Regions from separate parts of the Homo sapiens genome. Here region 1 is linked to region 2. Evidence: fine-mapped expression QTL. A gene starts in region 2. The other region holds a variant in brackets. All regions are shown on one strand. Distances are from middle to middle. Region 1 has its middle 26 kb from the start of RPL11. Region 2 holds the start of ELOA (elongin A).

Region 1 (4,389 bases), 26 kb after region 2:
GCAAAGGCTGGAGTGATGGGATTGCTGGCTTTGAAGGTGGCCACCAGCCAAGGAACACAGGTGGCCTCTAGAAGCTGGAAAAGGCAAGCAAACAGATTCTCCCTGGAGCCTCAGGAAGGACACAGCCATGGCTATACCTTGATTATAGCCCAGTGAGACCCATTTTGGACCTCTGGCCTCCATAAATGTCAGATAGTAAGTTTGCGGTAATTTTTTTACAGCAGAAATAGGAAATGAATACACTGCCTTAGTCTCTGTCCTGCACCACAGGGCCTCACGTTCAGCCCAGGGGTCACACCAGCTCCTAAGTGCAAAGTCACACTCACAGACAGATGCCCCTTGGCCACCCCTTGGGCCTAGGGGTACACACACCAGTGTTCTGGGGAGGAGGGACCCAGGGAAGAGGCTCTGGAAAACAGCAGGGAAATCTGGGGTTGTGACATGTGTAGCATGGTCTAGAAAGGGGTATGGGCTTAGGGTTGGCACAGCTCCTAGGCTGCACGGCCTCCTCACCTGCTCACTTGGGGTAAATGGCTTCACCTCCCTGAGCCTCATCTGTAAAATCAACCATGTGGATCATTATTGAGCACATCATCTGAGCCAAGTGTCCTACTTAGTATCAGAGATTTGAGAATGCCTCATCCTTGTCCTCAAGGAACTCATCTCCTAGTAATTCTGACCTCACAGGGCTTCTACCCAAGAAGGGAATGGTAGGTAAAGCAGCTGACACATAGAAACCCCTCAATAAACTTTATTTTCCATTCCTTTCTACTTAACCAAATCAAGGGGCTTACCAATTAAAAATAAAAATCCCTTGCCCAAACTCTTTGATGGATTCCATCTGCTCCTAGGAGGGGCCTAAAATCCTTTGCAAGCCCAACCTCCACCCCACTCTGTGTTCCACATACAAACCTTGTAATTCCTCAACTCCACCAAAGGGGCGCTCCTGCTTCTGGCCTTCGCCTTGCTGTTCCTGCTGCCTGGAATGTCTTGTCTTCCACAAACACCCACCCCTTCTCACCAAGCTTTCTCTTTCAGGGCTTAGTTGAAATGCCATTCTCCTGGTGAAGCCCTTCTCGGTTTCAGAACCCCACTAACCTGAGCAGGTTTACCTGCCATCTTCTCTCCCAACACCAGATAGGACTCTCTGTAGCACTGACCATGATGGCTATTATATGACTACTATTTGTATTACCTTTTGTTGGTTAAATATAAAATGAATTTATTTTCATAATTTTAAATTTCATGTTCTTCAAGACAAAGTCTCAAATGTATTATTTTTGTGTTGTGGTAAAATAAATACATATATCTAACATTTAGCTATGCCATTCAGTCAGTGGCATTCTGTAGATCCACACTGCAACCATCACCAGTATCCATCTTATCCATCTCCAGGACTTTTTCCATCCCATGCTCAAACTATGCACCCAATAAACAATAACTCCCTATTTTTCCCTCCCCCAGCCCCTGGCAACCATAGTTCTATTTTTATCTCTGTGACTGTGACTACTCTAGGTACCTCACACAAGTGGAATCATAGAATATTTGTCCTGTTCTGATTGGCCTATTTCACTTAGTATAGTGTTTTCGAGGTTCACCCAAATGGTAGCACGTATCAGGATTTCATTCCTTTTTTTTTAAGGCTGAGTAATATTTCATTGTATGGACAGACCACGTTTTGTTCATCTATTCATTTGCTGATGGATATTTGGGTTGTTTCCACTTTTGGCTATTACGAATAGGGGTGCTATGAACATCAGTGTACACATATTGGTTCCTGGGCTTTCCATTCTTTTGGGAATATGCCCAGAAGTGGAATTGCTGGATCAAATGGTAACTCTATACTTAATATGTATTACTTTTTGTCCACTTTTTATTGGTTTATGCTCCCTCCCCACTTCCTCCACTGTAGTCTAGCACCATGAGGGTAGAAGCCACGTCTGTCTTCCTCTGTGTTTCATTGTGTGGTACCCTCACTAGACTGTGAGCTCCCTGCAGGCACAGATTGTGACTAAACCATCTCTATATCCCTGGTGGGGGCACTAAATAGTTGGTGAACCCATAAGTAAGTGAACTAGAGCAAAGCGCCTAAAATAAAGGCGATACATCGATGGGTCCAGCATGGGCTTGGCCCTTCAATCAACATTTGTTAAATTAATGAAACAATGGCAATTTAGCTGACTTGGGTGAAGGCTGGAAGCCTGAAGCAGATGTCACAGAAGAAAAGTGACAACAATTCCTGACGGGGATTTTCACTCCCAGAGGTCCCAAAGAGACTGACTGGCCATAGATCTGCCTGGTTTTCTCCCTTTCTTTTTCTTTCTATGACTGGCCATAGATCTGCCTGGTTTTCTCCCTTTCTTTTTCTTTCTTTCTTTTTTTTTTTTTTTTCCGAGATGGAGTCTCACTCTGTCGCCCAGGCTGGAGTGCCATGGCGTGATCTCGGCTCACTGCAACCTCTGCCTCCCGGATTCAAGAGATTCACCTGCCTCAGCCTCCTGACTGAGTAGCTGGGATTACAGGTGCACACCACCATACCCGGCTAATTTTTGTATTTTCAGTAGAGATAAGGTTTCACCATGTTGGTCAGGCTGGTCTCGAACTCCCTCGTGATCTGCCTGCCTCGGCCTCCCAAAGTGCTGGTATTACAGGCGCGAGCCACCG[T/C]GCCCAGAGATGAGCTCTCGCCATGCTGCCTGGCTGGAACGCAGTGGCTATTCACAGGTTCAATCACAGCATGCTATGGTCTTCAACTCATGGGCTCAGCCTCCCACGTAGCTGAGACTACAGATGCAAGCCATGTTTTTGTTTCCTTAAGTTTTCTGACATTCATGCCTTTACATGGGGTTTCATACTCCCTATGTTCTTATCTGAAGCTATTTGGTAGAATCATATAAAACTGAGCCAGGCACTGTGGCACATGCCTGCAATCCCAGCTACTTGGGAGAATGAGTGGGAGGATTGCTTGAGCCCAGGAGTGTGAGAACAGCCTGGGCAATATAGCAAGACCCCGTCTCAAAAACCAAACCAAACAAAATTGAGCCCACGGATCTATGCTTCGTATCTCCTCTTGGGGCAACAGAGCACAGTGTGAGGGGTCACTGTGAATCAGAAGGATCAGGGTTAGCATTCAAGTTCCACCACTTCCTGGTGGTGACTCTGAGGCCCTCTTTTCCTTGTAAAATAGGAATGTTATATATAATTCATAGGACAACTGTAAAGATGATCTCAAATATGTCAAACACCTAGAACAAAGGAGATACATACTGGCCATGTTAGTTCTCCCTTATCTCCTCCTCCTCCTGTCTTTCTCCATTCCTCTCAATCCCCCTGTGTGTGCTCAGCTGATAGACATGATAATATCTTTTTTTTTACATCAGCATGAGGGAAATTTATAAAACAAGGACCAAAGGAATATATCCTGGAGCACAGAGGAATTCATTATACACACATTCTCTCCATAGAGGTTCAGTCCACAATTAAAGCTGAGAGATTCTGGCCCGGCGCAGTGGCTCGCGCCTGTAATCCTAGCACTTTGGGAGGCCGAGGTGGGCAGATCACCTGGGGTCAGGAGTTCGAGACCAGCCTGGCCAACATGGCAAAACCCCATTTCTACTAAAACTACAAAAATTAGCTGGGCGCAGTAGTGGGTGCCTGTAGTCCCAGCTACTCGGGAGGCTGAGGCAGGAGAATCACTTGAACCTGGGAGGTGGAGGTTGCAGTGAGCCAAGATCGTGCCATTGCACTTCAGCCTGGGCAACAGAGCAAGACTCTGTCTTAAAAACAAAATAATAAAAAAAAAAAAAAACTGAGAAATTCTTTACAATTCCCAGATAAGAAATGTTAGACACATTGACAAACACTGACCACATGACCACATGGATGATGGCAGCAACTCACAGGTCTACACTGTGGTGGGGTTTGCCTGGCACTGTCACATACATGATCTCTCTTGAACCGGGCAGGAAACAGATGGAAAGCATAAAGATTTACCTAAGGTTACACGGCCTGCATAAGGCAGTAGGGTATAATGCAAAGCATTCAGGAGATTTGGGTTCAAATTCTGACTCTGTCATTCCCTCATTCTGTGACTTAAAGCGATATAAAGTAAATGAGACTCTGATTATCTGTTTAAAAAAAGATAATTACTTGAGGCATATGATTTTTAGACACTTGTCCTCTACAGTATGATACTGTACCTTCTTTGAGAGAGAGAAAGGACAAACTGAATGCAGAGGGGGAAAGGCGAGCATCAAGTTCCACCCAAAGGATGCTTGGGGAGAGGTGCTGGGAGGGTGGTGTGTCGAGGGAGGGCATGGAATCTGTGTCCTCTCCCCCATACCTTGCCTTTGCATCTCTTCATCCGGCTGTTCACAAATTTAAGTGTCTCCC
Region 2 (4,389 bases):
CATGAACTATGAAACATAAAAACAGAAACCAAGTGGTCCTAGGCTGCTGATACCTTCTCCCTTAAGTGAGCCAAGATAACAGATGAAAAAGTGAAAACAGAGTTACAGCAATGTCTAGTACCAAAAAATCCATGAACACAGGTGTGGAATCAAACCCTTGGCTAATAATGGTTTGAAAGCAAGATCTGGTTGTAAATTCAACAGGGCTATATAATCATCTTGCAATTTCACATACAACCTGTAGGAGCTTGTTAGGTTACCAGAAGGTTGAGAGGAACAAGGCCAACATGACAGCTTGCAATTTTCCCTCTGCAGTTAACTCATATCTGAATGCCGACTATTATGCCCTTTGCAAAAATGATCTCCCAACATTTTCTCATCTTCATGATGCTCACTTCACAATGCAAAGCTAGAAGTTCAGGGTGATTTTCTATCTAGAAAGAGCCCAAATCCTCAAAAAAAAAAAAAAATCATTAATAGTTCAACTAGGTTGAGGTGGAATAAGCCTTTTCCTAATTTTGTATTTCATGCAAATCAACTAATAGAAAAACTACTTCCAAATCTAAATTCTAGTTAAAAAAAAAATGACTGTAGACACTACATAGAACATTTTTATCTGACAGAAATAAAGAACAAATAGTGGGTAGTTATTATATGGCACTGCTTTAAGGTATCAAACGTCAGTCACAGATCTTACAGTGTTCAGGAAAACAAACTAGTACTAAAAAATAATGACCATTTATTAGATGTCCACAAGGGGTTACTGTAAAAAGAAACTTGTAAGTATGCCTGACCACTAGGTACGGTACTGAAGCTGCAACAGAAAACATGGCACAATGAAAGCATTTTAAGTTTTCCCAGATTTGTAACTAAAATGGCTTCCTGAGGAAGTGAATCTTCGAGCTAGGTATGAACGAAGAGCCTTAAAAAGTGGTCTGATGGTGAGAGGCTGTGTACGGCCTTTGGAATTGCAGAAACCCTACCTCCAACAGGCTAGAACAAGGTAAAGAGAAAGTGGCTCTTCAAGAAAAAAAACCCCAAAGAATGACGATTGGTTTTCTGAGCACTGACTTTCAGCCTGGTACCTTAGCCTTTCAGGTTAGTCCTAGGAAGCAGCAGGTGAGGAAGAGGCTCAGCAGAGCAGTTCCCCCACGGCCCTAGCCCTCCCTCCACGACTTCCTTTTCCACCAGGACTGAGTTCCAACTCCTAGAACTGCCCGCCCCGGCCAGAATGATGACGGAGAATGCCAAACACATAAGTGCTTTTTCATCGTTGTACTTCCACTTAAAAAATCCTGACAACTGAGTTCAAGACCAGCCTGGCCAAGATGGTGAAACCCTGTCTCTACTAAAAATACAAAAATTAGCCAGGCGTGGTGGCGGGCGCCTACAATACCAGCTACTCGGGAGGCTGAGGCAGACAATTGCCTGAACCCGGGAGACGGAGGTTGCAGTGAGCCGAGATCGCGCCACTGTACTCCAGCCTGGGCGACCAGAGCAAGACTCGCCTCAAAAAAAAAAAAGAAAAAAAAAAATCCTGACAACCACCAGACTGTCTCCTGGAGACCAGAGAAGTGAGTGACAGAAAGATGAAAAGGTACAAGAACGCGTTTAACTTAATATTCAGTTTGTACAATAAACAACAAAAACTAGTTAACTACAATTAAAAATGGTTGTCCATCACTCGAACAACGAGAAACGGTAGCTCTTACCTTCCTATTAATGGCCAAAAGGAAACCTAGCTGCGACTTCCAACCCCGGGCCCCCGCCTCTTTTTCAATTCCAACCTAAGTTTTCAGGAGTATGCTTAGGTGACGCGAGGCTTTATTCTGTTTTGAAAGGGATTCACTGAGAAAGCGAAAGGTCCACGCTCTGATATCCAGCCGGAGAGTAGTAACCGCGTCTCCGAGAGGCGCGGACCAGACCGCGAGTCCAGGCTCCGCAGCGTTCGGGCGCCCGTCTTCTCCTCCCAGCGAACACGCACCCGCTGGGGAGTCCGCGCCGCTCCGCGGGGAGCCGGGCACCAGCGCAGGCACCGGGAGGCCAACGAGGCGGCGGCCAGCGCCCTCCCGCCCCGGGCACGCTCTCCCGCAGGAAACAGCTGGCTCGGGACGCCACGGAGCGCCTCTGGGAGGAAGCGCTAGGCACGCGGTGTCCGCACCGGGCGCGCCCCCATCCCGGGCCCGTGAGGGAGGGGGAGCGGCCGGGGCCCCGCGTCCCGACGCCCGACGCACGGGGTCCCAACGCGCGGGCAGCGGTCAATGGCCGCGAACTTCACGACCCCAGCCCCGCGGGGCCTGGCTCAGGGTCCCAGCCCCCGAACCCCGCCACGCTCGGGCCGCGACCGTTACGGGGCCCTCACCGACCCAACGCCCATCCCGCTACGCGCCGCCCCCTCGCTTACCTTCTTAGGGTCCGGGTTCGCGGCCAGGCGCGCCTGCAGCTTCTCCACAACTTGGAGCGCCGACTCCGCCGCCATCGCTGTCACTGGCGCGGCCTCCTCGCCGGAACTGGGCTCGCGTCGCGTCCTCGGGCCGCAGCTCCGCCCTCCGTGCATCCCCGGCGGAGACGGAAGCGCGCCTGGCCCCTTCCGGGCCTCGGCTGGGGTGTGTGGGGGGCGGTGGGCTGCAGGCTCCGCCCCCAGGGCCCGCTCCCCAGCGCCCACCCGGCGGCCGCGCACTCCTCGCGCCCCTGGCCCAAGTGTGCGCGCTGGGGGCTGGGGGCTGCTCGGGCCGTACGCGCCTCCGCCGCCGGCACCCCCGCTCCCTGTGCTCGCGTGCTGAGCCCAAGCCTGGAAGACCTCTCCAGGGTCTACTTCAAGACGGAATGAGGCCACCGCGCCAGACCCTGGCCTTATAAATGCCAACGCTTTCTCCCGCCTGGGGCTTAGCCACACCCTAATCAACACCTTGTCAGGGGTCCCGGGCTGGTGCCCGTCCTAGGAGTCCGCAGGCACCCGCGGTAGCAGCCACCCTAGGCTGAGCACACGATGCGTCAGTAGTTAGACTATCTTTTCCAGCCTCAGTACAACCTGATGAAACGAGTTGTATGATCTTCATTTTACAGATGAGGAAACTGAGGTTCAGGGAGACCAAATTAACTTGCAGATGGCCGCAGGACAGGAAAGAACTGAAAATGGAACCTGAATCTAAGATGTCTAGGACCATTGTGAGCGCACATTTCTGAACAGGTCGAGGAATTGAGGCCCAGAGAAAGGGATTTTTCAAAATCCAAACAGCTTAGTTCCTTCCATGAGGCAATAATAGCCCATGTGTCTTGTTTTCCCCACAAACAGTGTCTGGCACATAGGCACTAAATAAATACTTATTGCATGAATGTATAGATAGATAGATGTTTCCTCTGATGACTTGCCAATGAGCCGTATGGCTTGATTAGAAGAGCCCAAGATATTATTCTTCAGGCCGTCTACTCTCATCCTAAAAGCACTAAGTTTTACCATTACTAATACTACTACTAAAAAGAGCAACTAAATAGTTGCAAACTCACTTAAAGTACCAGCACTGATTACATCTCATTTGATCACATCAAAGCAGAACCTAATCAGATCTTCAGCAGCAAATTGGCAATGCACCTAGCCTGATCTCTCCCTCAAAGCAGGAAAGCCCAGAGATTCTTCCAGATTCTAGCTCTGGAAGAAAGAAAAACATCTTAAACACAAGTTGTTTCTTCAAATGAGCATTCATTCACTCACTATGCTGAAAAGCCCTCTCTACCATGTCCCTACTCCTCCATTTGGCGCCCCTCCCCCAGTTCCCTAAGCAACTGACCACCTTTTCAGGGTGTAAATGGTCAGTTTATTTATCTGTCTTGCCACTGGGCTGTTTATTTATCAAGTACAGTAACCGACCTGTCCAACTTTGAATCTCTGCCACCTAGCATCATCTAGACCTTATAATCAGCATTGGATATAAAGTCCATACAAGACTAATGACCATCCACTTGGTACCCTAAGGCTCAACTGAGGGATGTTGTAGAAAAGGCATTGAACTGGGTGTGAGAAAACTTCGATTCTAGTCCCAGCAGTAGTGTCTCCCTCCTCTGCGTAGCAAATACTTTTACATTTTATATTCCTTCCATTTTGAAAATGTACCACTGGTGTAATGGAATACAGACTGATTCTTGAAGCAGAATTGCTGAGTAATTGGCCTGGCACATACTCGGGACACATGAAACATTCTGCAGATGTTATCCAGAGAGAGCTCAATAACCAAAATGAAAAGAAACAATGAGGTTGGGCACAGTGGCTCATGCCTGTAATCCCAGCACTTTGGGGGTCAAGACGGGAGGACTGCTTGAGCCCAGGAGTTTGAGACCAGCCTGGGTAACGTAGTAAGACCCAGCCTCTACAAAAAATACAAAAATTTTAAA

The links. PIP is the estimated chance that this variant, and not a neighbour inherited with it, causes the effect.
Region 1: its variant is the best candidate, but not a certain one, in a credible set for the expression of ELOA in whole blood (INTERVAL, PIP 0.87).

The regions. Positions count from the first base shown.
Region 1 is chr1:23,715,231-23,719,619 of GRCh38, reverse strand. No RefSeq gene overlaps it. Among named protein-coding and RNA genes, the nearest start is that of RPL11, 26 kb to the right of the region's middle. The variant T/C (reference allele first, on the strand shown) is at 2,665.
Region 2 is chr1:23,741,594-23,745,982 of GRCh38, reverse strand. ELOA (elongin A) reads right to left here and starts at 2,512. Exons shown (of 11, transcript NM_003198.3): 1 at 2,405-2,512. The coding sequence starts at 2,479. RefSeq lists silencers at 1,851-2,330, 2,481-2,710.